Homo sapiens: one gene and its partners. The protein of the gene in region 3 interacts with the protein of the main gene of each other region in a biochemical or structural test. Each region holds a gene or a part of one and is shown on either strand. Other genes may lie near its edges. The genes, in order: SYNJ2BP, DLG4, RALBP1 and RALA.

Region 1 (7,552 bases), on a different chromosome or scaffold from region 3:
ATGCAGCTGGAGGCTGCAAGATTCTGAACTTCCCCGAATTGCTCCAGGGGATAACATCGCGATTGTAAAACCTAAGATCAGTGCTTCTGATATTTTGCAGACCCTGCACTCAATGGATCAGGCAGCACCACTTAGATCTATAAACTAACTCATCTAGTCTTTGTAGTGCCCACCCAAGAAACAACACAGCACAAGAGGACAGCTTCAACTCCCCATGATTTCTTCTCTGACCTGACCAATCAGTGATCCCCACTTTCCAACCCCCCACCTGACAAATTATCCTTAAAAACCCTGATCCCTGAGTTTTCAGGGAGACTGATAATAAAACTCCAGTCTCCTGTACAGCTAGCGCTGTGTGAATGAAACTCTTTCTCTATTGCAATTCCCTTGCCTTGATAAATTGGCTCAGTCTAGGCAGCGAGCAAGAAGAACCCATTGGGTGATTACACCTGCACTTCATTGAATGTGAATCATGCCTCAAAAAAGTTGAGATGAACCTGGTGATTATGTACAAAAATGCAAGCATTTTAAACATTTATTAATGACTCCTACTTATTAGGTTGGTGCAAAAGTAATTGCAGTTTTTGCTATAAAAAATGGCAAAAACCGGCCAGGTGCGGTGGCTCACACCTGTACTCCTAGCACTTTGGGAGGCCGAGGCAGGTGGATCATGAAGTCAGAAGATCACAACCATCCTGACTAACATGGTGAAACCATGTCTCTACTAAAAATACAAAAAATTAGCCAGGCATAGTGGCAGGCGCCTGTAGTCCCAGCTACTTGGGAGGCTGAGGCAGGAGAATGGCGTGATCTCCTGGGAGGCGGAGCTTGCAGTGAGCCGAGATTGTGCCACTGCACTCCAGCCTGGGCAACAGAGCGAGACTCCGTCTCAAAAAAAAAAAAAAAAATGGCAAAAACCACAATTACTTCTGCACCAACTTAGTCAATAATAAAAGGCTAAAGTTTCTCAAAGCACCAATTTTGTGTTAATTAAGCAAAAAAAAAATTTGTTATAGTATCCTCCTTACAGTAGACTTTTTCTACTATTTCCTATGCAAATATGATAAAATGATTTTTAAATAAATTCTAAGTATATCCCCAAGATAAAATCAAAGTAAAAAAAAAAACATAGAAGATGAAGTTTAAACTCAAAATCACCATAATCTACCTTTCTAGCCATCTTTGGACATTCTCTACTTTGCATTATACAGTAAACAAAATTTAATATTTGCTATCGCTTTTCACCCTATCATCCCCGCCCACAGCTACTGCTTATCTCCGTGACTTTGGATGTCTTCTTCCCTTTGCCTGAAAACATGAAATTACTTGTTTAATTGTCTCATTACCCTATTGCAATATTCGTTCCTAGAAGACAATGTAATTAGCTTATATTCATTTTTGTACCTCCTGTGCCAATATAGTACCTAGTACATACACAAAGCCCAACTGGTGTCAATTGACTATTATTGGAATTGAAAATTACACCTAGGTCAGGAATTTCTAACATTTCCAGTTCTAGGGAAATCTCACAAGGTTAAAAATGTTTCTGGGAGCTTCTAACAGGTTTTTTTTTTTTTTGGAGGAGGGGGAAGGACTATTGCAGTAATAGGGTTTTTTTATAAACTAAGGCATAAAAGGAGGGAAAAAGAGAAACAGAAGCCCCATATCCCTGAAATTACTGACACAGCTTACCCTACCCTTCCTAGATGACTCAATTCTTGCCCCATAAAGTCTACTCCCCACATAGCAGTATCCTTAAAGCACTTCAATGAATTAAATGAGTTGTTTTGTGGTAAAGTGCTTAAGACAGTACAGAATCGTCACTACAAATTATTTATAAAACAAAAATCGGACAGGCGTGGTGGCTTATACCTGTAATCCCAACACTTTGGGAGGCCGAGATGGGTGGATCACCTGAGATCAGGAGTTAGAAACCAGCCTGGCCAACATGGTGAAACCCCATCTCTACTAAAAATACAGAAAAATTAGCCAGGTGTGGTAGCGGGCGCCTGTAATCCCAGCTACTTGGGAGGCTGAGGCGGGAGAATCGCTTGAACCCGGGAGGCAGAGGTTGCAGTGTGCTGAGACTGCGCCACTGCACTCCAGCCTGGGCAACAAGAACAAAACTCCGTCTCAAAAAAAAAAAAAATCATTGAATCCTCACAACTCTATAAGTAGATTCTAATAATACTCTCATATTATAGCTGAGGAAACTGGGGCAGATAGAAGTGAGGTGACTTGCACAAGGTCACACAGTGAGTGAGTGATAGAGTAAGGATTTGAACTCAAGCATTCTGGCACTTTTTCTTTTTTGAGACTGAGTCTCGCTGTATCGCCCAGGCTGGAATGCAGTGGTACGATCTCAGGTCACTGCAACCTTCACCTCCTAGGTTCAAGCAATTCTCCTGCCTCAGCCTCCCAAGTAGCTAGGACTACAACAACCTCGAACTCCTGGGCTCAAGCAATTCTTCCACTTCAGCCTCCCAAGTAGCTAGGACTACAAGCATGCACCACCAAACACAGCTAATGTTTTGTTTTGTTTTGCTTTGTTTTGTTGGCAGAGATGGGAGTCTTGCTATGTTGCCCAGGCTGGTCTTGAACTTCTGGCCTCAAGCAGTCCTCCTCCTTGATCTCCCAAAGTGCTCGGATTACAGGCAAGAGCCACAATGCCTGGCTTGAACTGCAAAATTCTTAAAAATGGGGATCATTTCTTATTCTTTATTCTAGTGTCCATGATTCCTAATCATAGTGTAGGCACATAATAAATGCTAAATAAATTTTAAAAAATAGTTTTACTTTACTTTTCAGTCTTCTGAAACCAGCAGTTCTGACCCTATCATCTAAGTATAGTTTGGCTATTTTTCCCTCAATAAATAATTGTGTACTTATCACATGTAATCATTGACCACTTTTCTGGCTAGTCACATGGCTTCGCAAAATGTTTCTGCAGTTGAACATCTATCAGCTTGCCTTTCTATTTCCCCAAAGTAATTCCTAGATATTTTACTGTACAGTTTTTCTTTAGTATTGTTTTGAAAAGATCTTAATACTGATCCTTGAAGCAATCTTTAGAGAACTGTTCCATTTACCTGACTCTCTCCAAGAGGTGTTCCATCTACTCCTTCTCCTTGTTTCTGATATCTTAGCCAGTTTCCTATCCATCATAATACAATGTGTCCATCCTCATTCTCTCTTTCTCAAATTGTATTTAGTGAAGAACCATGTTTACCACTTTTTGAAAGCTGAAACAGATCATGTTACTGCTTCTCTTTATTTAAAACATCCCATTATGGCAGGCACAGTGGCTCATGCCTGGAATCGCAGCACTGTGGGAGGCTGAGGTGGAGGATCACTTGAGCCCAGGAGTCCAAGGCATGACTGGGCAACATAGTGAGATCTCGTCTCTACAAATAATTAAAAAAAAAAAAAATTAGTCAAGTGTGGTGGTGCATGTCTGTAGTCCCAGCTACTCAGGAAGCTGAGGCAGGAGGACCACCTGAGCCCAAGAGGTCGAGGCTGCAGTGAACTGTCATAGTGCCACTGTACTCCAGACTGGGGGACAGAGCAAGACCCTGTCTCAAAAATAAATAAGTACATTGGGTGTGGTGGCTCACGCCTGTAATCCCAGCACTTTAGGAGGCCGAGGTGGGTGAATAACTTGAGCTCAGGAGTTGGAGACCAGCCTGGGCAACATGGTGAAACCCCGTCTCTATGAAAAATATGGCTAATAAAAACATTAATCAGGTGTGGTGACACACACCTGTAGTCCCAGCTACTTGAGGGGCTGAGACAAGAGGATCACTTGTACTCAGGAGGTCAAGGCTGCAGTGAGCCAAGATCGTGCCACTGCACTCCAGCCTCGGTGACAAAGTAAGACCCTATGTCATAAATAAATAAATATAAAAACATTCCATTATATTATTATGATATCTATCAGTTTGCTCAGTCATTTAATGAACACTTACTGACCACTGTGTGTCATGCACTAGACAAAGCATTAAAAAAACATTAAAGACACATGCATGCATGTGTTCACTGCAGCACTATCCATAACAGCAAAGAGATCGAATCAACCTAAATGCCCATCAATGGTAGACTGGACAAAGAAAATGTGGTGCATATACACCATGGAATACTTTGCAGCCATGAAAAAGAACAAGATCATGTCATTCGCAGGAACGTGGATGCAGCTGGAGGCCATTATCCTTAGCAAACTAACAAAGGAAGAGAAAACCAAATACCACATGTTCTCACTTATAAGTGGGAGCTAAATAATAACACATAGACACACAGAGGAGAACAGACACTGGGGCCTACTTAGGGTGGAGGTTGAGAGGAAAGAATCAGGAAAAATAACTAATGGGTACTAGGCTTAATACCTGGGTGACGAAAAAATCTGTAGAACAAACCCACATGACACTGTTTACCTATATAACAAACCTATACATGTACCCCTGAACCTAAAATAATAGTTAAATGAAAGAAAATAAGAAATAAAATATATGTTCTTTGACTCAGAAGAGCTCAAAGTGAAGTAGAAGGAGGAGACATAAGTGAGAAAGCATATAGAAAAAAAAAGTTATTTATAATGATTCAGGGCTTGGAATTTTAAGTCACACAGACCTGGATCGAAATCTTCACTTAAAGAGTTGTATAATGCAGAAGTCAAGGTTTCCTCATTTCTGAAATGGGGATAATAACCATTTCATCTCTTCCTTTTTACAAGGGGACAAGATACAGTGCTTAGCTTGGCAATACATGGGAATACATTACAGGCAATCTGTAAATGATGTATAATATAGACAATAAGAGAACATCTATCCTAGGTAAAGCCTGCTTCCTGGAGGAGCTAACTGTTGAACTGAGTCCTAATCAATGGCTAGGAAGTAGAAAGAATCCAGATAGAACTTTAGAGAAAGATTAAGTTTCCATACTAACACTAAAGACTCCATAATCTGATCTCCACCTACTCAGGTTACTACTCAGCTACCTCTTCTCTCTTGAATCTCCTAAAGGAAACTTTCCTTCTGTCCAGGCTGGTTTACTCACTAACCTCAGAATATGCTCTGCTTATTTTCTTCTCTCTATTATTGCTTAGGCCATACTCATCCCTGACTCTGGCCCTAGCCTAAAGCCTGTCCATTCCAGAAGACCCACAAGTTCCACGTTCTTTTAATTGACCATTTTAATGGTTCTCAGCAGTGTCTGCATTCTTGAACTTTCCCAACACAGGGTCAGATTACCATGCTCCTTTCCGCACTTCCTTTGCCCTCCCACTAACTACCTCCTCATCATTTTCCTTAACTATCTGCACCTTTGCAGTGAGATTTAATTTTTCATATGTGAACATCATATCTCTATTGGATTGTAAACTCCATGAAGGCGAGACTTTGTGTAAGCAAGAGAAAATAGGGCAAGGATATAGCATTTAGCCTCACATCTATTTGATATGTGAAGAAAGGAATAGATCAGAAAACTGCTAGCAACAGTTTCAGTTAGCATGAAACCCAAAGCCTATGACAGGTCTACAAGGCTTAAATGATAGAACTTAATGGGGCATCTTGATTTTAGGTACTCACCTTGATATGCCCTCAGCTCTATCAAGAGCAAGCAATAAAAACTTTCCACTGTAGGTTGTATTAGTCATTTAAGATGCCTCAAATGCTTCTGGGAATAAGGCATGATATAATAAAATAAAGGTCAGGGGAAAGGTTGGCAGTCAACTTCTTAAACATGGCTACTGCAGTGGAAAGTAGTATATGGTATAGCAGAATTAACACACCTGGGTTAAAAATCCTTTGAAATTTACTGGCATTAGAAACTGGGCAAGTCCTTAACCTCCCCAAGGCAATTTCCCAATCTAATAATGTGGATTAAATATTTATTACTCAGGGTTGCTGTGAAGATTAAATGAGTATGTATGTATGTATAGTATATATACAGTATATATATGTATGTATAGTATATATACAGTATATATACAGTATATATGTATGTATAGTATATATACAGTATATATATGTATGTATAGTATATATACAGTATATATATGTATGTATAGTATATATACAGTATATATATGTATATATAGTAACTAGCACACTACCGGAAAGACAATACCTCCTTTAGTATTCATTATTAAAACACTGCCATCAACCCATCATCTTTTCCAAGGCCTTTAAAGAAAGTAAGAAAATAAATATTCTCTTCCCTCTTTAAAGATGGCATATCAGGAGTAACTTGCTGAAACCCATTGAGGACTCGGACCTAAAAACAAGATTCCTAATCATAGTACTCAATGTACAGTAAGGTTGTCTTTATGGCCAATCTCTTACCTGTTGCAGTGCAAAAAAACATATTAAACAGTCTTGTCACACTTTTTAGAGTAACTGAGTTTTGAGACGCATTAAGAGACTTTCAATTTGATAAAGAAAAAGTGAGAGCCTTAGATACTATAATCAAGCTGGACTCCTGTAGAAAAAAACAAGATTCCACTAAAGATAAAAGGTAAACTGTTCAACCCTTGAAGACATTTGAGATTGTAGCCACTGCCTTTGTAATTCTTCAGCTCATACTATTAGTCTAAAATGGCAGGAAATAAAAACAAAACGAAGTTCCAAATGGTAGGAAACATAAAATAACATAAATAATCATAAAATGAGCCAAAGAATGAACTCTTAGAGATGGAAGAGACCTCTGAAGTCATCTAGCCCAAGTCCCTTCTTACAGTTGAGAAAGCAGACAACAGGAGAGATTCCATGCTATTAGGTTGGTGCAAAAGTAATTGCGGTTCTGCCATTGAAAGTAGTGGTACTTATGGCTGGGCGGGGTGGCTCACGCCTGTAATCCCAAAACTTTGGGAGGCCAAGGCAGGTGGATCACTTGAGGTCAGGAGTTTAAGACCAGCCTGGTCAACGTGGTGAAACCCTGTCTCTACTAAAAATACAAAAATTACCCGGGCATGGTGGCAAATGCCTGTAATCCCAGCTACACAGGAGGCTGAGGCAGGTGAATTGCTTGAACCTGGGAGGCAGAGGTTGCAGTGAGACAAGATCGTGCCACTGCACTCCACCCTGGTGACAGAGTGAGACGCGTCTCAAAAAAAAGAAGAACAAAAGAAAGTAATTGTACTTTTGCACCAACCTAATACATGTCAAGCTTCTTTTGCCTCTTCACTCTGTTGTCATAATTTCCCCAAGATTTCATTACTTCCCTTGCAGTAAGCAGATCAGTCAGGAACAGGTTCGACTGCCTTATAATATGGGCCCAAACACTGGAAATATCCACAATTCTTGTCCCTGACAGAACACAAAGGGGGAATGGTACACATGTTCTCGGATCTGATTAAACATCAGGTTCCTGAGTACACAGCTATACAAACACAAAGAGTGGGCAATGCTGCCTACAAAAGAAATGCATACTTAGAGGATTTTCATATTTCTTCCATAGATAGAAAGATCCTTATGGGACCATCAAAATTATGTGGAAGTTTCTAGTGGTGATTAGTTTCTAGTGGTATTTTGAGACAGTCTCCTCCCTATATATCTTCATG
Region 2 (7,552 bases), on a different chromosome or scaffold from region 3:
GCAGCAAGTGCTGGGGCCAAGGCAGGGGCCAGGGCTCACCTTCCATCTGCGTCACTGTCTCGTAGCTCAGAACCGAGTCTTCTCGACCTGGTGGGAGGTGGGGCATCTGCAAGGGGCTCTGAAACAGGGGACCTGGAGCCCTGTCTCCCCCTTGAGGATATCAAAAGCAACTCAGTGCTCCTCTCACCCACATCTTCCCGAACTAACCCTACCTACCCTGCGATCCAGAGCTGGAGCCCCAGTCCTAAGAAGAAAAAGCAGGCCACGGGGTTAGTTATGAGCTCAGCTCCATGAGCCCTCACACTTCCACCCAGGCTCACACCCTCCTCCACCTACCTTGGCCTTTAACCTTGACCACTCTCGTCGCTCAACCCTGTGGGATACATGGAGGGATACGCGGGTAGGGGAATGCCTACCCCCTGCCACCCCCATGCTCTGAGCCAGCTGACAACCCCTTCTCCATACTCTGGGCCAGCTGACACCCCTTCTCCTGCAGCCCTGGACACTGTGCTCCTCAATAAGGAGTTGTCCTTCCCAAAGGCTCATGGGAGCCACGGACCCCAGGAGGGCCCAACAGACAAACCCCTAGGAGTTCAGAGGGCAAACCCATCCCCTGTTGGCTGCCCACCCCGGGGGACCTTGGGAACTTCAGTGCCTGTGGCAGGAAGGCTACAGAGCCCAGGAGCCTCACCGCCGTTTGCTGGGGATGAACCCAATGTCGTCGGTCTCACTGTCAGAGTGGACCCGCCGTGCCTGCCACCACTCCTCATCACTAGCATCGATGACATGCAGCACATCCCCAAAGCGGAAGCTCAGGGCCTGGCTCAGGAAGCCGCAGTCCTTGGTCTTGTCGTAATCAAACAGGGCCCTGGAGGGCAAGTGGCTATCGGTCAGAGCCCAGCTGAGGACTCCAGGAAGGATGCCCCAGTCACCCAAAGACCCGGCCCAGAGGTCTGCAGATGGCACTCCCATGGGAGCTATGGATGCCGAGGAACCCAAAACTGTGTGGGGACCAAACGCTGACTATAACTCATAACAACTATTAGCCATCACTCAGTCCACACTGAGCACAGTTTCCAGAGGCAGGGCTTGAACTTGACCCTCTCAAGAAAGCAGTTTGGGCCAGGCGTGGTGGCTCCCACCTGGAATCCCAGCTGACTTTGGGAGGCCAAGGCGGGCGGATCACAAGGTCAGGAGATTGAGACCATGGTGAAACCCCGTCTCTACTAAAAATACAAAATATTAGCCGGGCACGGTGGCGGGTGCCTGTATTCCCAGCTTCTCGGGAGGCTGAGGCAGGAAAATGGCATGAACCCAGGAGGCGGAGCTTGCAGTGAGCAGAGATCACGCCACTGCACTCCAGCCTGGGCAACGGAGCGAGACACCGTCTCAAAAAAAAAAAAAAAGAAAAAGAAAAAGAAAAACAGAAAGCAGTGTGCAGTACACACGCACATCATAAAGTCACAGGGGTAACCCTGAATCTGCCCAAATTCATAAGAAAAAGAAAATGTCCCGTGTTTCCAAATAATGGTTACCCTTACCAGTATCAAATTTCTATCAGTAAGTCACAACCCCTGGGGTCAGAACCAGGGAAGTAATGAAGACACAGAAGAAAGCAATGGGCCTGGAGAGGAGGGAGGAGACCCCGGGCCCCCTGGAAGTGTGACAACCAGATGACATTCCGCCTGGGAGCCACTACACAACCTCTGTGGTCACTGGGAGTCAGAACAACCTTGGGGACCAACCGGACCCGAGCAGGGAGGAAGGGCAGAGCAAGGGCTCAGGTGGGAGCCAGTGTCTGGGTGGCTGGTGATGCCATCCAACAAGAGGGAAACTGCTGGCACAGCAAGATGGAACCCAGGCCCACAGCAGGATGATGAGCTCAGCGTGGGACATGTTGAGTGTGGGACGCCTGTGGGACATCCCAGTGGAGATGGCCAGAAAGCCAATGGCCAGAAGTGCAGGTCTTGACCTCTGGAAATAGGTCAGCCAGGGCCAGCACCTCCGAGAGACATCTGCAGAGCGCAGCGGCAGACGAGGCCATGCAAGCCACAGGGCCAGACAGGGACAGAAGTGGAGGGGTGACCCCCGGGGGCGGGAGAGAGGTGTGTTTTGGCAGAAACCTAAGCCACAAAAAGAGTCAATGGAGACGAGCCCTAAGAGGGGAGCAAAATGCCGCTGGAGAGACGGGGGCAGGCACCACAGAGCTGCGGCCCACGTCTCCGGGACTGCCCACAGGGACGTGAAGGCTGGGGCAACACTCCAAATACCCTAGAGGACCCTGCTTCACCAAGCATTAACCTTCGAGACGCCAAATTGTGGGGTGGCCTGGGAGTCCCGGGGAAGTGCTGGGATGACCAGGGGCTAGAAGGCAATTGGGATACTTGGGGCAGAGGCTATTTTCCCATCGACAGGGAGTATTTCAAATGTTAACCTGTGCAGCCAAGCCCATGAACCCTGGCTGCGCCTCAGGCCTGGGGTGGGGAGCTAGAGCAGGCAGGGTGGAGAAGAGGAGCGGCTGAGGCCCGGGCCAGGCACAGAGTGCCCAGGAACGCAGAGGGGCTGAGGAGTCCAGCCCGGGAAGCCTCTGACCTGATGTAGAAACCCCTTTTGGGGTTGCTCCGCAGGGACGCAGTCCCTGAGCCCAGGCTGCTGTTCATGAGCTGTTCCCGAAGGTCGTGGATCTTGGCCTCGAATCGGCTGTACTCTGAGGAAGGACAGGGAGGTTTCTGAGCTCTGTCCCCATCCTACTGTCACCCCTGTCCTCCCCTACTGAAGCCATCAGCTGAGGAAGAGTTCTAAGGGCCATTTCAGCTCACAAGACAAGGAACTTCCGGCCTGGTACCTTCTGGTTTATACTGAGCGATGATCGTGACCGTCTGACCCGCATTCTTCAGGGCAATGGCAGCCTGCTCATGGCTGGCATTTCGGAGGTCCACACCGTTGACCTAGAGAGAGGACGACAGGCTGTGTCACCAGAGACAGGAGGCAGCACTTCTGGGTCCAGGTGGAGCAGGGAGTGGTCCCGCAAGAGGACTCGGCTGCAGCCCATCCAGGCCCCTCCCCAAGAGCTCTGCGCTCTGCCCTGTGGGGAGGGGGTGGTGCAGGTAGGGGCAGGCCTTCCCTCACCGACAGGATCTGGTCCCCCTTCCGCAGCTCCCCACTGAGGTCTGCAGGGCCCCCGGCCAGGATAAAGGAGATGAAGATGCCTTCACCGTCCTCGCCACCCACGATGTTGAAGCCCAGGCCCGTGGAGCCCCGGTGGATCACAATTCGCCTCGGTTCTCGGGGAATGTCTTCCTCCCCGAGCAGGTCCTTGGCCACTGGAGAGTAGCGCCGAGGGGAAGTGGGGGTCATGGCTGTGGGGTAGTCGGTGCCCAGGTAGCTGCTGTGACTGATCTCATTGTCCAGGTGCTGGGAATAAGCTGAGGAAGACAGGGCAGAGATGAAAGTGCCTGGAGGGAAACAGCACCCGCCACCCAACCTTCTCCCCAGGGTGCCAGAAGAGCCAAAGTTAGGTGGAAGGGAAGATATTCTGCCAGAGATGCCAGGGTGGGGTGGTAAGGGGATATCAGATCACAGTGACATCAGGGGTCAGGAATTTATAGGTGACATCAGAGGCTGGTTGTCCTAGGGGATAAAGGATTTGAACGTTATATGTCCTCAGTATGCCAGGGATGGGGAAGTCAAAGGGAGCATTAATATTACGCTTTGGGGGTTTTCTCTGGGTTCCTGTGTCACTCGAATCTCTTAATCCATAAAATTCTTCTCCCTCTTTTTTCCCCCCACCTCTCTGCCATCCATTCGTTGAAAAAACTAGGTCATTTGTCTAAAAGAATTTCCCACATTCTATGAGGGAAATTCTTTTGTTTTTTTGGGGTTTTTTTGAGAAGGAGTCTCAGGCTGGAGTGCAGTGCCGTGATCTTGGCTCACTGCAGCCTCTGCCTCCCAGGTTCAAGTGATTCTCATGCCTCAGCCTCCCAAGTAGCTGGGATTACAGGCGCGCGCCACCATGCCCAGCTAATTTTTGTATTTTTAGTAGAGACAGTGTTTCACCATGTTGTCCAGGCTGGTCTGGAACTTCTGAACTCAAATGATCCACCCGCTTATGCCTCCCAAAGTGCTGGGATTACAGGCATGAGCCACCTTGACCAGCCTATGAGGGAAATTCTAACAGGGAAATTACTGCTTACCCTCCTGTGGTTTGTTTAGCCTATGCCTCTGCCCCTGTATCTCCTGTAAACTGGCAGTTCATTCTGGAGGCTTGATCAGTTTCAAGTTCAATTCAGAGTTTTTTTTAGTAACTCCTGTATACTTCATAGGTAGCGCTACGTTCTTCCTACAGCATCACCACAGGATGCAATAATGCCTGGTTGTCTTTCTGTCAGGTAAGATTAATGGTAGGTTCAGGGTCATCAGCCCAGTCCATCCATTATCTAGCGCCCCATCAGCCTTTCAGGTAAGTTTTAGCCACACTGACAATCACCGCCTGGTTCTGATAAGTATCAAGGACTGCAAAATGGTGGTGATTGTCATTTACTAGTGGGAATTCTTCTGTAAAAAAGAAAAATCTCGACCAGGCACGATGGCTCATGCCTGTAATCCCAGCACTGTGGAGGCCAAGGCAGGCAGATCACTTGAGGTTAAGACTTTGAGACCAGCCTGGCTAACATGGTGAAATCCCGTCTCTACTAAAAATACAAAAATAGGCTGGGCGTGCTGGCTTACGTCTATAATCTCAGGTACTCGGGAGGCTGAGGCAGGAGAATTGCTTGAACCCAGGAGGCGGAGGTTGCAAGGAGCCAAGATTGTGCCACTGCACTCCAGCCTGGGTGACAGAGCGAGACTCCCTCTCAAAAAAAAAAAAAAAAAATTCCTCCAGCTTGGGTAACATGGTGAAACCCTATCTCTACAAAAGACAAAAGTTGAAAGTTAGCTGAGGCTGGGCGCAGTGGCTCACGCCTGTAATCCCAGCACTTTGGGAGGCCGAGGCAGGTGGATCACAAGGTCAGGAGTTCAAAACCAGCCTGGCCAAGATGGTGAAATCCCATCTGTACTAAAAGTACAAAAATTAGCTGGGCGCAGTGGCAGGGCCCTGTAATCCCAGCTACTCGGGAGGCTGAGGCAGGAGAATTGCTGGAACCCGGGCGGCAGAGGTTGCAGTGAGCCAAGATCGTGCCACTGCACTCCAGCCTGGGTGACAGAGTGAGACTCCATCTCAAAAAAAAAAAAAAAAAAGTTAGCTGAGCATGATGGCACTCGCCTGTAATCCCAGCTACTCGGGAGGCTGAGGTGGGAGGATCGCTTGAGCCCAGGAGGCGGAAGTTGCAGTGAGCCAAGATCACACCACTGCACTCCAGCCTGCTGGGTGACAAAGCAAGACCTGCCTCCAACAAAAAAAAAGCAAAAACAAAAACAAAAAAACAGCCCTATGTCAACCTGTTGGTTACTCTCTGAGGTAGCTGGTACATGAAAGGGAGGATAAATGCATGCCTCTCTCTGCATGCCTCTTTCCATTCATTCACCAATTTCAGAATGAATGAGATTGCCTAGCATCCTCCAATTTTTTTTTTAATTATTTATTTTTTTGGGATGGAGTTTCACTCTTGTCGCCCAGGCTGGTGTGCAGTGGTGCGATCTTGGCTCACTGCAACCTCTGCCTCCCAGGTTCAAGGGATTCTCCCACCTCAACCTCTCCAGCAGCTAGGATTACAGGCACCCACCACCACGCCTGGCTAATTTTTTGTATTTTTAGTAGAGACGGGGTTTCGCCATGTTGGGCGGGCTGGTCTCGAACTCCTGACCTCAGGTGATCCGCCTGCCTCAACCTCCCAAAGTGCTGAGATTACAGGCATGAGCCACCGCGCCCAGCCAAAATATTTTTAAGTATTATTATGATCTTAAAGATTTTAATATATTTAACGAGTTTTCACTGGACAGTAGAAGCACCTTCAGTTTGGATCCTGTGTCTTTGCTGAGACCCTATTAGTCCTGGATACCTTCCTTGCTCTCTAGTATGAAAGAAGTTAGAAGCTCATCTTACAGATTTATTGCCAAAGATTTTAAATTGGCTGGGCACGGTGGCTCAGGCCTGTAATCCCAGCACTTTGGGAGGCCGAGGTGGGGGGATCATGAGGTCAGGAGATCAAGACCATCCTGGCTATCACGGTGAAACCCCATCTCTACTAAAATATACAAAAAAATTAGCCAGGCGTGGTGGTGGGCACCTGTAGTCCCAGCTACTCGGGAGGCTGAGGCAGGAGAATGGCATGAACCCGGGAGGCGGAGCTTGCAGTGAGCCAAGATCGTGCCACTGCACTCCAGCCTGGGCGACAGAGCGAGACTCCGTCTCAAAAAAAAAAAAAAAAGAAAAGAAAAAAAAAGATTTTAAATTGACCCTTCTTCCAAGGAGCCCAGGTTCCTTTTGTTAGGTTATGGTATTTAGGAATAGTACCACATGATTTTAATATGGTTTTACAGTATTATTTCATATTTTGTAGGGGCTGCCACACCTCATTATTTGTTTCCAAAATGTCTTAGCTTTTCCACACAAATTTTTCCAGTCAAACTTTAGTGTCAACCTTCCAAGTTCCCAGTAGGGAAACAACATTAAAATTCTGATTAGGATTGAATGGAATGTAGATTAATTTGGAGCCGGTTGAGATCTTTAGCATATTAAGTTTTTCCATCCAGAGACACGGTGTGACTCCTCACCCCTTCCAGTCTTGTTTTATGTCTTTCAGTAAAGTTTTGTCATTTTCTTCATACAAATCTTACATTTCTTGTCAAGTTTCTATTTCTAATAATTTTATAGAAATTTTTTCTATGGCAAAAGGGGGCTTTTTATTCACTACATTTTCTTATTGCTGGGAAGTTACTAATTCCTGTTATTTATCTTACAAATAGCCACATTCCTTTTTTTTTTTGTCGTTTTTTGAGACAGAGTTTCACTCTTGTTGCCCAGGCTGGAGTGCAATGGCGCGATCTCAGCTCGCCGCAACCTCCGCCTCCCAGGTTCAAGCAATTCTCCTGCCTCAGCCTCCTGAGTAGCTGGGATTGCAGGCATGCACCACCATGCCCGGCTAATTTTGTATTTTTAGTAGAGATGGGGTTTCTCCATGTTGGTTAGGCTGGTCTCGAACTCCCAACCTCAGGTGACTCACCCATCTCGGCCTCCCAAAGTGCTGGGATTACAGGCATGAGCCACCGGCGCGCCCAGCCTGTTTTGGTTTTTTTTTTTTTTTTTTTTTGAGATGGAGTCTCGCTCTATCGCCCAGGCTGGAGTGCAGTGGTGAGATCTTGGCTCACTGCAAGCTCCGCCTCCCAGGGTCAAGGAATTCTCCTGTCTCAGCCTCAGGATTAGCTGGTATTACAGGCGCTCGCCACCACACCCAGCTAATTTTTTTTTGTATTTTTAGTAGAGACAGCGTTTCTCCATGTTGGCCAGGCTGTTCTCAAACTCCTGACCTCAGGTGATCCGCCCGCCTTGGCCTCCCAAAGTGTTGGGATTACAGGCATGAGCCACCTCGCCCAGCCAACAAATAGCCACATT
Region 3 (8,446 bases):
ACTACTACACCGAGGCCTCCACCGCCTGGGCCTGAGCACGGCCGGGCCATTCCCAAACTCGGGACGCAGGAGAGGATCTCGGAGAAGAAGAGGCCACCCTGAAGCACACAGTTTACGTCAAAAGTTTACATGGAGAAGGCGGTTCCGTTCTGAAGCGCGGTCTGCTGTCCTTTTGGGCGCGAGGCATGTGGTGTTCGCTGTGAAGCCTCCTGGGCCTGTTGGTCCTCCGATTTCATCCTCGGGACATAATGCTTACCAACAGTACTTGCACTGAGTTGACACTCGTGCACTCTTGACTCCAGATGTTTTTCAAAATGTATGTTCACACCAATAATTGCCTACTTCAGAGGCTAATAAGACAAAACCAATAAAACTGAGTGATGGTGTCTGTATTGGGAAAAAAAAAAGTGTTCCATGTTCTTTCTCACCTACGTTTCTGCCCACCTTTCCCTCTAAAAGTTCCTTCCCCATCCCTGCCCTAGCCCCCCAATTTCTGCATTAGTCATGACTAAGCCTTCTTTAAGCTTAAGGACATAAAATATACAGTACCTAATACAGTGCCTGACCTATAGCAGAGGGTTAAAAATGGGCTGAGCTGGCTTAGGTCTCTTCTTTGTCCTCTCAATGACTCCTATTTGCTTATAAAATAAAATTGTAATTATTCTGATGGTCTGCAAGATCCATAATTTGGTCTCTGCCTATCTCCCCAGTTTCAGGTCTTGCCACCACCCTGTATTATACTTGCTATTTTTGCAGATGCTACTCTCTAATTTTAGACTCCCATGCTTTTTCTCACACTGCTCCTTCTACCTAAATGCCCATTCTTTCTATGCCTGTACACTCCTGATTTTCATCACCTTCTACATAGTTTTTCCTTACAGTTTCCCTCTTCTTCAGCTCTTTTCTTCACTTTAAGAAACTGACCACTATCTCCTTTGTACATCCACTGTACCCGCATATGTTCTTCAATCAAAACAATCTTGTACTTGTTGACAGTTAAAGTAAGAGATAAGGTTCAACTACCCTGAAGGCAGGAACACTGCCTTCTGTATCTTTAAGTCCTCTTCACCTGGTCACAGTACTTTCTACATAGTAATTCCTGTATTCTAAATAATCTGCATTTTTCCTTGTACCCTCTTATACAAACTAACATAAGTTTCTATCAGGGATCTTTCAAAACAGAAACAATATTCTTTTGGGTTACATGCTGGGCCCGATCTCTTCTTGCCAAGCAAACAACTATGCAAATATAACTGTACAAATTAAAGTTATTATGCACTTTCTGATACCACTTTCCTATTCTAAATTAGGGGAGAAATAGTCTGGATAAGATCCATAATTAGAAACAATATCCTGAAGAGAAAGCAAACTAAGTTGTATTACATTGTTTCGAGATACCTTGTTTAAAGAGTCACTTCTCAAAAGCTACTACTGTTGGCAGGGCGCGGTGGCACACGCCTGTAATCCCAGCGCTTTGGGAGGCCTAGGCGGGCAGATCACCTGAGGTCGGGAGTTCAAGACCAGCCTGACCAACATGGAGAAAATGTCTCTACTAAAAATATAAAATTAGCCGGGCGTGATGGCGCATGCCTGTAATCCCCTCAGGAGGCTGAGGCAGCAGAATCGTTTGAACCCAGGAGGCAGAGGCTGTGGTGAGCTGAGATCATGCCATTGCACTCCAACCTGGGCAACAAGAGCGAAACTCTGTCTCAAAAAATAAAAAACTAAAAAAAAAAAAAAAAAGCTACTGTTAACTAACCTACCCCACTTGGATCTACCAGATACTTTGAATGAGAGGTGGAAACCACTCTACTGACCTCCTTCCTACCCCTACTACCGCCACTCCAGCTTACAGTAATTATTTTCACAAAGACAGAAAGGAGTTATCAAATGACCACAATAACTCTAAAAACAGAAAGTGAGGTGATCTTTCTTATTCACAGTCCCACTTATTCATTTAGAAATGCTGAGCACCAAAACAAAACCTTATCACAAGTTCAGTATTTCGTTAATAACTGCCAAGTATAATGGAATACTCCCCAAAGTACTGCAGCATTAGAACATGACCACTCCACTAAATTAAAAATTCAGCGAAAGCTTTTCTAACAAGGCTGGATGGAGCACTAACTCAACGGCCAAACGGCTGCACTTCCTGTATATGCACGTTCAAAACACCTCGAATTAACATGCTAGGGACCTTGAAGAATTGTACTAGGCCTTGCTCAAGAGGAAGGCTTTGTAATACTGAATCCCAAAACTTGAAACAGCAGAATTACTTCAGGGAAGACGGAGGTGTTAAATATTCTGTAAAACCTGTTTCACTCTCACAACGATCAGTTTTAAAAAAAAGAGGGAGAACACTGACCTCATTAAGAGCATTCTGACAACACACATAGTTGAACATGAGTTGTGAAAAGAATTTTCAACTTCAGATCTGTCTGTCCATTCCCACTGAAACCTGAAGGAAGGATCGCAGCACCCAAAGGCGCCCACTGCTCAGTGCCAGCGGTGGGCGACACCAGGAGCCTGTCCTGGTCCCCTGGGTAAGCCCTGGAGCCTGGCCACTATGCCGGGCACGATCCACCAACCGTGAGGGCTGGGTCCCCTAGCCTCTGTCCAGGCGCCCCCCAAGAGCTTCCCCGAGGCCTGGGGACTCCTAACTCTCCACCCCCGGCCCCCGAGAGCACCACAAACGAGGACGCCACGAAGGGAGGCCCGTCGGCCAGTGGGAGGGACGCACGGCCAAGGGGGGCGAAAACTGGGGCGAAGCTTTCCGGGGAGGAACCCACGCCAGGGGCAGCCACGCCCCCCACCCCCAACTTCAAACCCGAGCGCTGCGAGCACCGAGCCCCACACGCTGCCTGACAGACGCGGGCGCGAGGCCGGCGCGGGAGAGGGTTCCTCGGGCACTCCAGGGGTATCGCCGCGACCCTAGCACGCGACCGCTCCCTGCGACTGACCTGTGCCTGCCGCCGCGCGACCGTCCGCCCCGCCGCAGCCTCCGCCTCCTCGCGCTCACGCTGCCGCCGCAGCCACCGGAGCCGCCTCCTGCGCTGCGCCCCAGGCCGGCCTCGGGCGCCCCATTCCCACCCCGCCCAGCCTCTGCCTGTTTACAATGATTGGGACGGAACGGGACGAGGCGGTCCAGCGCGCACGCGCATTCCCTCCTCCCGCCGCAGCCGGCTTCCCGGATCCTCCTCTCCGCTCAGACGGCTGAAGCCGTCAAGGGCAGGCGACCTGGGCTCTCGCGCGGGGCGCGCTGGGAGGCGTAGTTCCCAAGGCCCCGGCGTCCAGCCAGCCCGAAGGCCTCTCGCCAAGGAAGCAAACTACAACACCCAGGAGGCACCGCGCCCCCTTCGTCCCCAGGCTCGCTGAGGAGACTGAAGAAGAGCGCGAGAGAACGCGCCGAGGGCCAGTGCTCTGCAGGCGCCTGCGCAGTCGGTGGCCTTGCGGGTTTCGGGGACGGACGGCTTACCCCGGTGTGGTGCTGGCGAAGGTGGCTCGCGGGCATCTCCTGCAACGGCCTTGAGGATGGAAAGGGCTTTCCTCTCCACGCTCTGGCCAGCCTGCGCCTCAGCTCCCGAAGTTGAGAGCTTTCCTTGCGCCAGCGTGCTTTAGTCGTTCCAACCAGTTAAACCAGACTGGGGGCCGCCCGGCTGGCCGCTGGGTGGGGCGGCTGCCCCGCCTTCGACTGGGTGTGGGATTGGAGGAAAGAGCGCCGTGGGCCTGTAGGGATAGGCGGGAATAAACCTCTGTCGGGAACATCCACGGAATTCCTGAAGCGGGTGTGGGCTTCTGCAGGGCTTCAGCGCGCCCCCGGCTCAGCAGTTACCGAGCAGCCCCCGAGGAAAGCTGCCCAGTCCGTGTTTGGCTGGCAGTAGAGATAACTGAATTTCTTCGAGAAGCCTTTCACCCAGGCTTGTTGAGTTGCTCTGCTAATGCGTAGCGAAGGCTGGAAACGGCTTCAGCAGTCTTCGTGTTTTCTGAAATGTGGCAGTTTATTAGGGGAGAGGAGGGACTTGGAATAGACGACCCTACCTGTCACTCGCATTCCTACGTGCAGCACTCTGTGGCACTTCGTTGCCCGTTTAGATTGGCCGCTGCTATCCATCTTGCTCTCTGCTCCCACATCAGCTTTCCTCAAAGCGGGCGGTAAATTTGTCCCTAGTACTCTGCGCTCCCTACTCAGTAAAGTTCAACCCCTGGGGCCTTAGATTCATTCAGGGGCCTCCCACGAGTGGATACGGGATGGTCTGAGGTAGCCATTGGTCTTTGACTTTCGGAAAAGCCTTCTCATGGCTCCTCTCGCAGTAGAACAGTCTTCTCTGACCACTGGGTTGGGCAGGTGAGCATGGCAGTGACAATTCTCTGCCTGTGACAGCACTGATTCGGCCAAGGGGCAGGCACTGATCCACGCTGGGCCTTATGGAGGCCTTGCCTGAAGCTGCTATGTGGATGCAGGAGGGGAGCAGAGGGAGTTTTCTACTGAGGCAATTGCTGATGGACGTGTTTCTTGCAACATCGAGTGGCCTAGCCAAAGGTGAGGGTGTGAAAGAGAAGAAAGGAGAAATGGAAAGGGAGAAAGAGCTGGCAGAATGTAGACCGTGGTTTCATTTGGAGGGCATGGTTTGTGGAGCTCTTTAAGTGCTGTGAGCATGTGAGCCTAAGTGGGTGAGCCCACTCATTCATTGATTTATTATTTGGAGCCAATATGTGTGGATATTGAATGTATTTGTTGGCTGCCACTTGAGCATTTATTCCTTCCATTTAAGCCAGGCAACATAACCATTCCCTCTAGCAGCAGAGATGGTCACAAGCCCAGTCAGAAACAATGAACCCACAAAGACTGGGGCTGAGGCTTCCAGTAAACTGTAGCTTCCTTGCTCCTCTAGCATGGTGTAAGTATATGATGCCTGGAAATGTGGCAACCGTTTTCCTCCTATAAGGGGAAACCCTAGAGGGATGGGAGTTTAGAGGGACAGCAACAAGTAGAGCCTGGGGTTGAAGTCAGTACTGTCAAATGAATGCGGGAAAGATGGAGAAGAACCTTGTGTTTGGTGGCATGATTTGAGCTGCAGTATCAAACCTCACCTGTTTGATTCTATGGACTATCCTATAGACTATTCGGGATTGTGAGCAAGGCCATCTTACAGACTATCCAGAATTGTGAACCACAAATTTCCTGTACTGTTTAAGCCAGTTCATATTAAAATTCTAAAAGTCCTAACTAATTCAGTTGAATTTCTTTTACATGACTCTGAAAGGTCCTAACTAATACAGGTTCCTACGTAAAAAACTGTGGAAGGGACTTTTAGCTATGTCTGTGTGGCATAGTCAGCAATTCTCTGCACACAAAACCAGTATAAAATTGGATAAATTGGCAAAAACAACCATTTCAGAGCACTGGAAATCAAACAAATACAGAAAACAATTTGAGAAACATCTATTCTTCAGAAACAGCTAGCAGGGACAGTAGATGTCTGTGGCCTTCTGGCCTGAGGCTGCTTCTCTCCCACCCTGTTGCACCAGAACTGCAGTTTTGCCAGTGTGGGTAGGAATAGCCAAGAAAACTAGCAGCTTTGCTGCCAAAGGGATGGACTCAATTTGGGGCGGGTGGTCAAAAACCCAAGGCTTTGCCAACTAAAAGTGACAAACTCATATGGAAATGAACAGGGCAAACCCACAGCTGTGCTTACCTGAGGTTACAGTCCCAGGTGGGGCAAATGGCAAGCCAGTCAAAAATATAACAGGGAGATTTTAGAAATAAGAGTCATTGAAGAGTTATGGTCACACCACCTCACTCCAGCCTGTACTTTTCAACTCTAGAAATATCATCCTTTTTTATAGAGTCTACTTCCCCACAGAAATACTCTATTTGTTAATTACATCTCCACACATCTCTGACTGATTGGGAAACTATGCATCTGCCTGGGGTTGACCCAAGAGACCTGTTAAGTAAATCCAAGGGAGACTTGAGAACTGGTGGCAACTGTGAATGTATTCCTTAATCCACACACAGATCCATTAGCAGAGGGAAGAAGACTCCCAAATCAAGGTGTTTGAGTGCAACCACTGCCAAATCATTGACTAGCCACAGCTATGCAAACACAGGGACAAAGCCCAGAAAGTCAGGGTAAATATAAAAATGTGAATTGAAAAACAGAGCAAAGATACCAGCAGCCACAGGCCATATAGAGACAGATTTTAAATCTGTGTAAATCCAGGAAGATAAAACAACAACAACAACAACAACAAAACTAAGAAAAATAAAACATCTAGAATTGCTGCAATATATGAAATATCTGCTTTTCAACCAACAATCATGGTTTATGCAAAGAAACAGTAAAGTGTCACCCACTCTGAGGAAGAAAATAGCAACCAATAGAAACAGACCCATTGGGCTCAAATACTGGATTCAGAAGCAAACTCTTGAAAGTAGGTCTTATAATTATGTTTTAAAAAGTAAACATTTTTCAAAGAATTAAAGGAAAATATAATGATAATTCTTTAACATATAAAGGATATCAATAGGGAAATGATTCTATAAAAATGAAATTTCTAGAGTTGAAAAATATAGAAGAGAAATATAAATTGTATTACATAATCTCAGTGAAAGATTTGAGATGGCAAAAAAGGTGTACTTGAAGATAGAGAAATTATCGTATTCAAAAAACAGAAAAATGAAGTAAAAGAAGAGCTATAATGACACATCCATAAAAAAGAGGATATTTTTAGCAATAAGCCAGACTCAAGGACATAGACTGTAGCTTTAAATAGAAAAAGAAAAAACAGGGAATGTAAACTAGTACAACCACTATGGAAAACAGTATGGAGTTTCCTTAAACAACTAAAAGTAGAACTACCATTTGATCCAGCAATCCCACTATTGGGTATCTATGCAAAGGAAAAGAAGTCATTATATGAAAAACATATGCACACACATGTTTATAGCAGCACAATTTGCAATTCAAAAGATATAGAACCAACCTGGGTGTCCATCAACCAATGAGTGGGTAAAGAAAATGTGATATATATATAATATCTTATATAATATATATAATATATATGATATATCATATATTATTATAATATATATAATATATATATATATATACCATGAAATACTACACAGCCATAAAAAGGAATGAAATAGTCTTTTGCAGCAACTTGGGTGAAGCTGGAGGCCATTATTCTAAATGAAGCAACTCAGGAATGGAAAACCAAATACCGTGTGTTCTCACTTATACTTGGGAGCTAAGCTATGAGAATGCAAAGGCATAAGAATGATATAGTGGACTTTGGGGACTTGGGGCGGGGCAGGGAAAAAGGATAGGAGGAGGGTGAGGGATAAAAGACTACGTATTGGGTACAGTGTACACTGCTCAGGATACAGGTGCACGAAAATGTCAGAAATTACCACTAGAGAACTTACCCGTGTAACTAAAAACCACCTGTACCCCCAAAACTATTGAAATAAAATAAAAATTATTAAAAAAGAATACCTACATAAAGAAAACATGCAAACAAAAATCTTAAAATTTTACCTGCATATAGATAACCATTAATAATAGCTTGGTATATCTCTCAGCCTTTGGGGTGTGTATGTATATTTTTTAGCATAACATTTTATTTTACTTCATTTGCTAAAACTAATGAAACCTGAATTTGGATTATTGAGACAAAAATCATACTGCAGAAAAGCACTAATTTTATTAAATTAAATATTGGAAGGGTTGGGGTTTTTTTTTTTTTTAGTGTTTTAGGTTTTTTTGTTTGTTTTGTCTTGCTATATGATGTTCAGGAACTACCATTCAATGAATTTGACAGATAAAGTTTGAACATATTGGTAGGGAAATAAGCCAATGATTTGAATTACTTATCTATACAGAAGAAATAGTTTTAAGATTTAAGACCATATGAAATAAACTGGGTTAAACTAGGAAAAAAAATGGTATTAATGAGAGAAAGAGCATGGTAGCACTTTTTATATTAGAGATCATAGGTAAATATCAGCTGTTATAATTTTTATTAAATATCAAACATCAACCGGGCATGGGCGGCTCACGCTTGTAATCCCAGCACTTTGGGAGGCCAAGGCAGACAGATCACCTGGGGTCAGGAGTTCAAGACCAGCCTGATCAACATGGAGAAACCCCGTCTCTAACCCCGTCTCTGTATTTGTATTCTCTAAAAAATACAAAATTAGCCGGGCATGGTGGCACATGCCTGTATTCCAGCTACTCAGGAGGCTGAGGCAGGAGAATTGCTTGAACCCAGGAGGTGGAGGTTGCGGTGAGCTGAGATCGCGCCATTGCACTCCAGCATGGGCAAAAAGAGCAAAACTCCACCTCAAAAAAAAAAAAACATCATTTTACCGGAGAATGAAACAAATTATTACATAATAGAGAATCATGAACCAAAATCAACAGTATTTACCTAATAAAGC
Region 4 (7,552 bases), on a different chromosome or scaffold from region 3:
CCTGGTAATCTTGAAATTATAAGAATCTACAGAAAATACGCTACTTGAACTTTCTGGATAAATTAGATGGCAGTGAAATAAAAACACTCTCCAGAACTTGGGAGACCAAGCACTGGTGTGCAATGACCATCACTGCCATGTGGATGGAACATGTGCAGGATGCTGGGCCAACACCTGATTTCACACCAACAAATCATTCCTGCCAGATGAGTGGATTCGCATAAATAAAACCTGGAGAAAGAACTGCCTCAAAGCCAGATGTCCCAGGCCTTACACACTTGTCAAGAACCACCCACAGATATGTACTCTAGGATTACCCCCCAGTGGATAAACTCATCTAATTACAAACCTGCTGATAGGGTGTGGCTGTGTCCCCACCAAAATCTCATCTTGAATTATAATCGCCATAACCCCACTTGTTGAGGGAGGGACTAGGTGGGAGGTGACTGGATCATGGAAGCAGTTTCCTCCATGCTGTTCTCGTGACAGTGAGTTCTCACGAGATCTGATGGTTTTATAAGGCAGTTTTTCCTGCTCTTGCATGCACATGCTCGCTCCTGCTCACTCTCATGAATTCTCATTCTCTCTCTCCCCTTCTCTCTCTTTTCTGCTGACATGTAAGACACGTCTGCTTCATCTTCTGCCATGATTTTAAGTTTCCTGAGGCCTCCCCAGCCATGTGGAACTGTGAGTTAATTAAACCTCTTTTCTTTATAAATTACCCATTCTCGGGTATGTCTTTATAGCAGTGCGAGAACAGACTAACATTTACCTTGCTATATGATCTAGAAATCCAAGAAGTCAAGGCAGCAACATATCAATACAAAACAAGCCTTGCTCATCTGCAAAGCACACACACCACTTAAGACTGTGAAGCCTAGAAGGGAATCCCTAGATTTTCATAGACCTATGACAGCTTTAGCCTAGAAGGGAAAAGGAGGTCACCCTGTGGCATCTATAACTAGCTGGGTAAAAAACAAAATGAAATCCAGAAAACTGTGTAGAGAAGCAAGAAAACTCAGGGCTGCTTGTATAAACTGAGAAACCATGGAGCAGTTACCATGCTAAACACCGTATTTTCCTACCATGCACTAGGAAAGTTGACCTTTCCTGCTTCTTACCACATCCATCTCCTTAAGTATCTTTTGTTAAAATTTAATTTTTTAAAAATTGAGATGGGGTCTCACTCTGTCACCCAGCCTGGAGTGCAGTGGCATGATCTCAGCTCATTGAAGCCTCCCCTCCTGGGCTCAAGTGATCCTCCCACCTCAGCTCCCTAGTAGCTGGGACCACAAGCACATGCCACCATACTTAGCTAATTTTTGTACTTTTTGTAGAGACAGGGTTTCACCATCTTACTCGACCTGGTCTCAAACTCATGAGCTCAAGCTACCTGCTAGCCTCAGCCTCCCAAAGTACTGGGATTACAGGCCTTAGCCACCACGCCCAGCCAATCTCCATAAGCATCTCTTAAAGACACAGCGAAGGACTGTGTGCAACCCTTGTAAGGTATATACATAGCCAAACTATTATCTACATTGAAATGTACACATTTGTATATCCATGGTGAAGATAATACAATGAAGCAATCAGTACCTCTATTAAAGACATTGTTACACTGCTATTTAATCTTGTTCTGGAGATATTAGTCAGTGCAATTAGATAAATAGTTAAAGGCATAAACACTGGAAAAGAAGGAAAAAAAACTATTTACAGATGACACAATAGTATATCTGGAAAGTCTGAGAGAAGCAATGATGGAAGTAATTGATATGATTTGGATGTGTGTCTCTTCCAAGTTTCATGTTGAAATGTAATTCCCAAGGTTGGAGGCGGGCCTAGTCGGGGGATGTTTCCGTCATAGGGCAGATTCCTCACGAATGGCTTGGTGCTGTCCTCACAGTAATGAGCAAGTTCTTACTCTATTAGTTCACATGAGAGCTGGTTGTTTAAAAGAGCCCAGAACCTCCTCCTCTCTCTCACTCTTCTTTTGCCATGTGTCACACCTGCTCACCCTTCGCCTTCTTCCATGAGTAAAAACTTCCTGAGGCCTCAACTCGCCAAGCAGATGTTGGTGTCATGCCAGTACAGCCTGCAGAACCGTAAGCCAAACAAATCTCTTTCCTTTATGAATTACCCAGTCACAGGTATACTTTCATAGCAATGCAAAAGAGGCTAACATAGTCAACTTAGTAACAATTTGGCAAGGTGGCAGGAAAATATGCAGAAATCAACAATATTCGTATAAATGGACAATAACCAGTTAAAATACATAAATGATAAGAAAACTATAATAGCAACAAAAAAGATAAAATAGCTTAGGAATAAGCAAGAAATGTTGAAAACTTGTATGAAGAAAACTATAAACCATTCCTCAAAGACACAAAAGTAGAATGCAAAAAATAAAAAGACATTGTTTGTTTTAGGTTAAGATGTCTCAATACCATCAAGATGTCAATTCTCTAGCAGGGCATGGTGGCACACACCTGTACTATCATCTACTTGGGTGGCTGAGGCAGGAGGATCACTTGAGCCCAGGAGTTCAAGGCTGCAGTGAGCTATGATGGCACCACTGCACTCCAGCCTGGGCAACAGAGGGAGACCCTTTCTCCAAAAAAAAGATGTCAGTTCTTCATAAGTTAGTATAAGTTCAATGTGATCCCAATAAAAACAGCAATGAGGCCGGGCACCATGGCTCACGCCTGTAATCCCAGTGCTTTGGAAGGCCGAGGCAGGTGGATCACTTGAGGCCAGGAGTTTGAGACCAGCCTGGCCAATATGGCGAAACCCTGTCTCTACTAAAAATAAAAAAATAAGCTGGGCATGGTGGCACACGCCTGTGGTTCCAGCTACATGGGAGGCTGAGGCAGGAGAATCGCTTGAACCTGGGAGGCAGAGGGTACAGTGAGCTGAGATCGCACCACTGCACTCCAGCCTGGGTGACACAGTGAAACTCTGTCTCAAAAAAAAAAAAAACAAAAACAAAAAACCAGCAATGAATTGTTTCATAGACTTAGACAAATTGATGCTAAAATTCATACAAGAAGGCAAGAAAAACAATGAAGAGGAAGCGCTATAATGGGTGACTAGCCCTACCAAACATTAAAACATACTACAAAGCCTCTATGATTAAAATGATGTGGTACTGGTGCATGAATGGTGAGATAATCCAATAGAAAAAAAATATACCCAACTGCATATAGAAGGAACAAGAATTTTTTTTTCTTTTTTAAATAAATGTCATTGGGGCAACTGGATAGCCACTTGGAAAAGGATAAAATTAGATGCATTCCTTATATCATACATAGAAATAAACTCTGAATGGAACTAAATGTGAGAAATGAAACTATATGAGTACCAGAAGAAAGCATGTGTGAATTTCTCTATAACCTGAAGGTAAGAAGTTTCCTGAATATGACTAAAACTTCAGATGCAGTAAATTTAAAATTTATATATTTGACTATATAAAAACAATCTTTTGCATGGCAAAAAATCACCACAAGCAATGCCAAAAGACGACTAGCAAAAATATCTGCAACATATGTCAAAATTAAACGGTTAATATTCTTAAATAGAGAGAACTTTTCAAAGCTGAGAGGAAAAAAGACTGAAAGTCGTATAGAAAATGGGCAAATTGGTCGGGCACGATAGCTCATGCCTGTAATTCCAGCACTGTGGGAAGCTGAAGTGGGCAGACTGCTTGAGCCCAGGAGTTTAAGACCAGTCTGGGCAACATGTTAAAACCCCATCTTGACAAAAAAAAAAAAAAAAAAAAAATTAGCAAGGCATGGTGGCATGCACCTATAATTCCAGCTACTCAGGAGGCTGAGGTGGGAAGATCACTTGAGTCTTGGAGGCTGAGGCTGCAGTGAGCTGTGATCGCACCATTGCACCGCTGCACTCCAGCCTGGAGGGTCCAGCAAGACTCTGTCTCAAAAAAAAGAAAAAAAGTAAAAGAAAGCTCGGCATGGTGGCTCACGCCTGTAATCCTAGCACTTGGGGAGGCTGAGGTGGACGGATCACGAGGTCAGGAGTTTGAGACCAGCCTGACCAACATGGTGAAACCCCATCTCTACTAAAAATACAAAATTAGGGTCAGGCACGGTGGCTCATGCCTGTAATCCCAACACTTTTGGAGGCCGAGGCAGGTGGATCACGAGGTCAGGAGATCGAGACCATCCTGGCTAACACGGTGAAACCCCATCTCTACTAAAAGTACAAAAAATTAGCCAGGCGTGGTGGCACGCGCCTGTAGTCCCAGCTACTCGGGAGGCTGAGGCAGGAAAATCGCTTGAACCTAGGAGGCAGAGGTTGCAGTGAGCTGAGATGGCGCCACTGTACTCCAGCCTGGCAGAGTGAGACCCCATCTCAAAATAAATAAATAAATACATACACACATACAAAAACGTGCTAGGCGTGGTGGCGTGCACCTGTAATCCCAGCTACTCAGGAGGCTGAGGCAGGAGAATCGCTTGAACCTGGGAGGCAGAGGTTGCAGTGAGCAGAGATCGTGCCACTGCACTCCAGCCTGGGCGACAGAGCGAAACTCCATCTCAAAAAGGAAAAAGAAAAGAAAAGAAAGTGAGCAAATAATATGAACAATAAAAATAAATATTAAAATGACCCTTAAACATATGAAAACATGTTCAATTCACTTGTAATAGAAGTACAAATGGAAAATACACTGAGATACAATTTCTTACCTATTAGATCAGCACAAATTCAAAAGCTGACAAAACACTGCTGGTGAGGCTGTGAGGAAATAAGCACTCTACTCTCATACACTGCTGGTAGGAATGCAAAATAGTATAACCCCACAGGATGAGGAGTTTGACAGTACCTAACAACTCTACATATGCATTTATCCTGAAGATGTATCTCTCCAACAATACAAAGATACATGTACACAAAGTTTTTCACTGTAACATCATTTGTAATTGCAAAATATTAGATATTACTTAAATGTTCAAACAGGACATTAGTCGAGAAAACTATGGTACATACACGATAGCAGTTAAGAATGAAAGTTACTGATTTTAGTTTATGTATTTTATCTTTTCACACAGCTACTGACTTGTTAGGAGATACATACTTATTAAGTTGTTCAGACCTAATTACTTAATAAATTAAACTGGCCAGGCATGGTTGCTGACGCCTGTAATCCCAGCACTTTGGGAGGCTGAGGCACATGGCTCACGAGGTCAGGAGTTCGAGACCAGCCTGGCCAGCATGGTGAAACCCCGTCTCTACTAAAAATACAAAAAATTAGCCAGGCATGGTGCCGCGTGCCTGTAATCCCAGCTACTCGGGAGGCTGAGGCAGGAGAATTGCTTGAACCTGGGAGGTGGAGGCGGCAGTGAGCCGAAATCGCGCCACTGCACTCCAGCACGGGTGAAAGAGCGAGACTCCGTCTCAAAAAACAAAAAACAAAAAAATTAAACTGTTAGGTGTTTCTTTTGACCTAGGGATGCTGTGAAAAAAATTACTGCGATAATAAGGGTGCCATGAATTGAGAAAGTTTGGGCACTTGACTGATAAAGGCCTACGAAGAAGGCCTTTAAGAGAGAGAAAGAATGTGTGTGTGTGTGTGTGTGTGTGTGTGTGTGTGTGTAGTTATGAGGTTACTGTGGACTGCTGTCAACAAAATTTACAATAGGCTAATGAAAGTACTCTCTCCAGTGTAGTTAAGAGCTGTAACAGATATTATGACAGCACATAAGAGAAGCAATCAGCCCAGTCTTAAAGGTTTTTTGTTTTTTGTTTTTTGAGGGATGGGATCCAGAGAGAGAACCTAATTGTAATTTTTTGGAGAATTATAACCTAAACTGAGTTCTGAAGGACCAGTAGGAGTATACTAGATTAGGGGAAGGAAGAGAGGCTAGAATTCCAGGAAGAGGAAATGGAGGACTGAGTAAACAAACACTAGCATTCCAGAAGCTGGGTATTGGTAGAACAAAAGATCATCCAAGAAGAGAGATAAGGCTAAAGGGTTAGGTAAGAAAAAAAATGAAAAATATGAAAGATAAAGGGGAAAAAAGAGAGTTAGGTAAGGAGCACATCTTGAAGGTTTTGTATATGAGATTAAGGATAAATGGAGTTTGAATTTTATTAATGGGCAAAAAAGAGCCACAAGAGGATTTTAAGCAGAGAAATATCACCATTGTTCTAAGCAAGAATGGGAAAAGTATCAGATGGGTTCCAACCATAGGCTAGAAGGCTGCTGTAGTAATCCAGAATATCTAGACAGGGCAGCTGAACTCAGTGTTTGGTCACGCAGTGTGGCAACCTCCACTTTTAATGGAGTACTATGTTAGCTTCTCAACTACATAAGAAAACAGATCCTGTGGCTTAGATGACCATAATCATAACTTTTGGAAACTGGGGGATCTTTGCCCACCTTCCCAATAAATCTGGGAGTATACGCCATTTTATAATCTAACTATGTCTTATTGTCCAAAATAACATTACCAAACCCTGACATTTAGTTTCAAAAGTAAATTCAGCAATAAAATTGGATCCCAGACTTTAAGGAGACTATGTATGTCAGTGTTACATCTATTGCATCTAATATAGGACCCTAGCTGTGAAGGCCTTTAAGAATAGTATAATTTTATGGAAGCATGCCTTTTTTGGCTTGTAAAGACTACCCTCTTGACTTTCAGAAACTAAGTCATCACCTTCACGTATAATTAAATCAAAGATGCAAATTCTCACCTAAAATTTACTCATACATATTTTAGAAACCCATAGAACTTTAATTTCTTTTTTTCTATACGGCAACCCAAATCCTTATGAATGCGATAAGGTAATAAGAAAGATGTCTTAAAGAAAAAACAGAATAACTGTTACTTATGGGGGCCAGACAATCAGCTGTTTTTTACTTAAGGGTACATCTTTTAAAAAAAAAAAAGAGAGAGAGAGAGAGATGGACACATTCTTCAAATTAAGCCTATTTAAAAGTGCATTTTAAAAAGTGCACAGGCTTAGGAGGGAAGAGAATTCTACCAGCACTGAATAGCAGCTAAACCCTTACAAGACTTCTGCCACTTTTAAGCCTCCATCTTAAACCCAGAGAAAATGATTAATGGTCTCAAACGGTTAAAAACAGACCAAGCACATCTCTGCTTCTTTTACCATTCTTTCTACTGTCCCCCATAGCTTCTCCCCCATTTCCATTAGTGAAAGAACGAACTAAAAAAAATGTGATTTCAAGGAAAGGTCACTACAAATAGATTTATGGTATTCCTCTCAAATAGGGACGATTCTGTTACTTTAAAAAGCACTAATCAAACACCAGAATTGAGTCCAAATACTTTACCGGGACACCCACGGGAAAAATGCCCAACCATTTTTCCATCATGGCACACATGGACGGTGATAACACTGTATTTGTAGGCACGCTGAAGATAAAAGAGAAGAATGGCTGCTGCTTGAGGCCACCTGGCCAGGACTGCTGGCAACCCCAGGCCACACTTGATGTCCAAGAGAGAGGAATCAGTATCTTCACCTTCCTGAAGCTCCAGTTCCAGCTCAGTCAGAACTGCCTTTTCCA

The links.
Region 1: the proteins of RALBP1 (region 3) and SYNJ2BP form a complex in vitro, tested with the Homo sapiens proteins (2 studies listed by BioGRID and IntAct, with this or other methods).
Region 2: the proteins of RALBP1 (region 3) and DLG4 interact in a biophysical measurement, tested with the Homo sapiens proteins (2 studies listed by IntAct, with this or other methods).
Region 4: the proteins of RALBP1 (region 3) and RALA form a complex in vitro, tested with the Homo sapiens proteins (3 studies listed by BioGRID).

What each region holds. Positions count from the first base shown.
Region 1 is NC_000014.9:70,406,539-70,414,090, forward strand, and holds part of SYNJ2BP (synaptojanin-2-binding protein), read right to left. Parts: intron 1-7,552. UniProt on the Homo sapiens protein: Regulates endocytosis of activin type 2 receptor kinases through the Ral/RALBP1-dependent pathway and may be involved in suppression of activin-induced signal transduction.
Region 2 is NC_000017.11:7,193,628-7,201,179, forward strand, and holds part of DLG4 (disks large homolog 4), read right to left. Parts: intron 3,426-7,552; coding exon 3,130-3,425; intron 2,949-3,129; coding exon 2,846-2,948; intron 2,708-2,845; coding exon 2,593-2,707; intron 869-2,592; coding exon 692-868; intron 374-691; coding exon 337-373; intron 245-336; coding exon 217-244; intron 88-216; coding exon 40-87; intron 1-39. UniProt on the Homo sapiens protein: Postsynaptic scaffolding protein that plays a critical role in synaptogenesis and synaptic plasticity by providing a platform for the postsynaptic clustering of crucial synaptic proteins.
Region 3 is NC_000018.10:9,470,206-9,478,651, reverse strand, and holds the start of RALBP1 (ralA-binding protein 1), read right to left. Parts: upstream 3,140-8,446; 5' UTR 2,961-3,139; intron 2,958-2,960; exon of another isoform or gene 2,366-2,957; intron 388-2,365; exon of another isoform or gene 130-387; intron 1-129. UniProt on the Homo sapiens protein: Multifunctional protein that functions as a downstream effector of RALA and RALB. As a GTPase-activating protein/GAP can inactivate CDC42 and RAC1 by stimulating their GTPase activity.
Region 4 is NC_000007.14:39,626,436-39,633,987, reverse strand, and holds part of RALA (ras-related protein Ral-A precursor), read right to left. Parts: intron 2,093-7,552; exon of another isoform or gene 1-2,092. UniProt on the Homo sapiens protein: Multifunctional GTPase involved in a variety of cellular processes including gene expression, cell migration, cell proliferation, oncogenic transformation and membrane trafficking.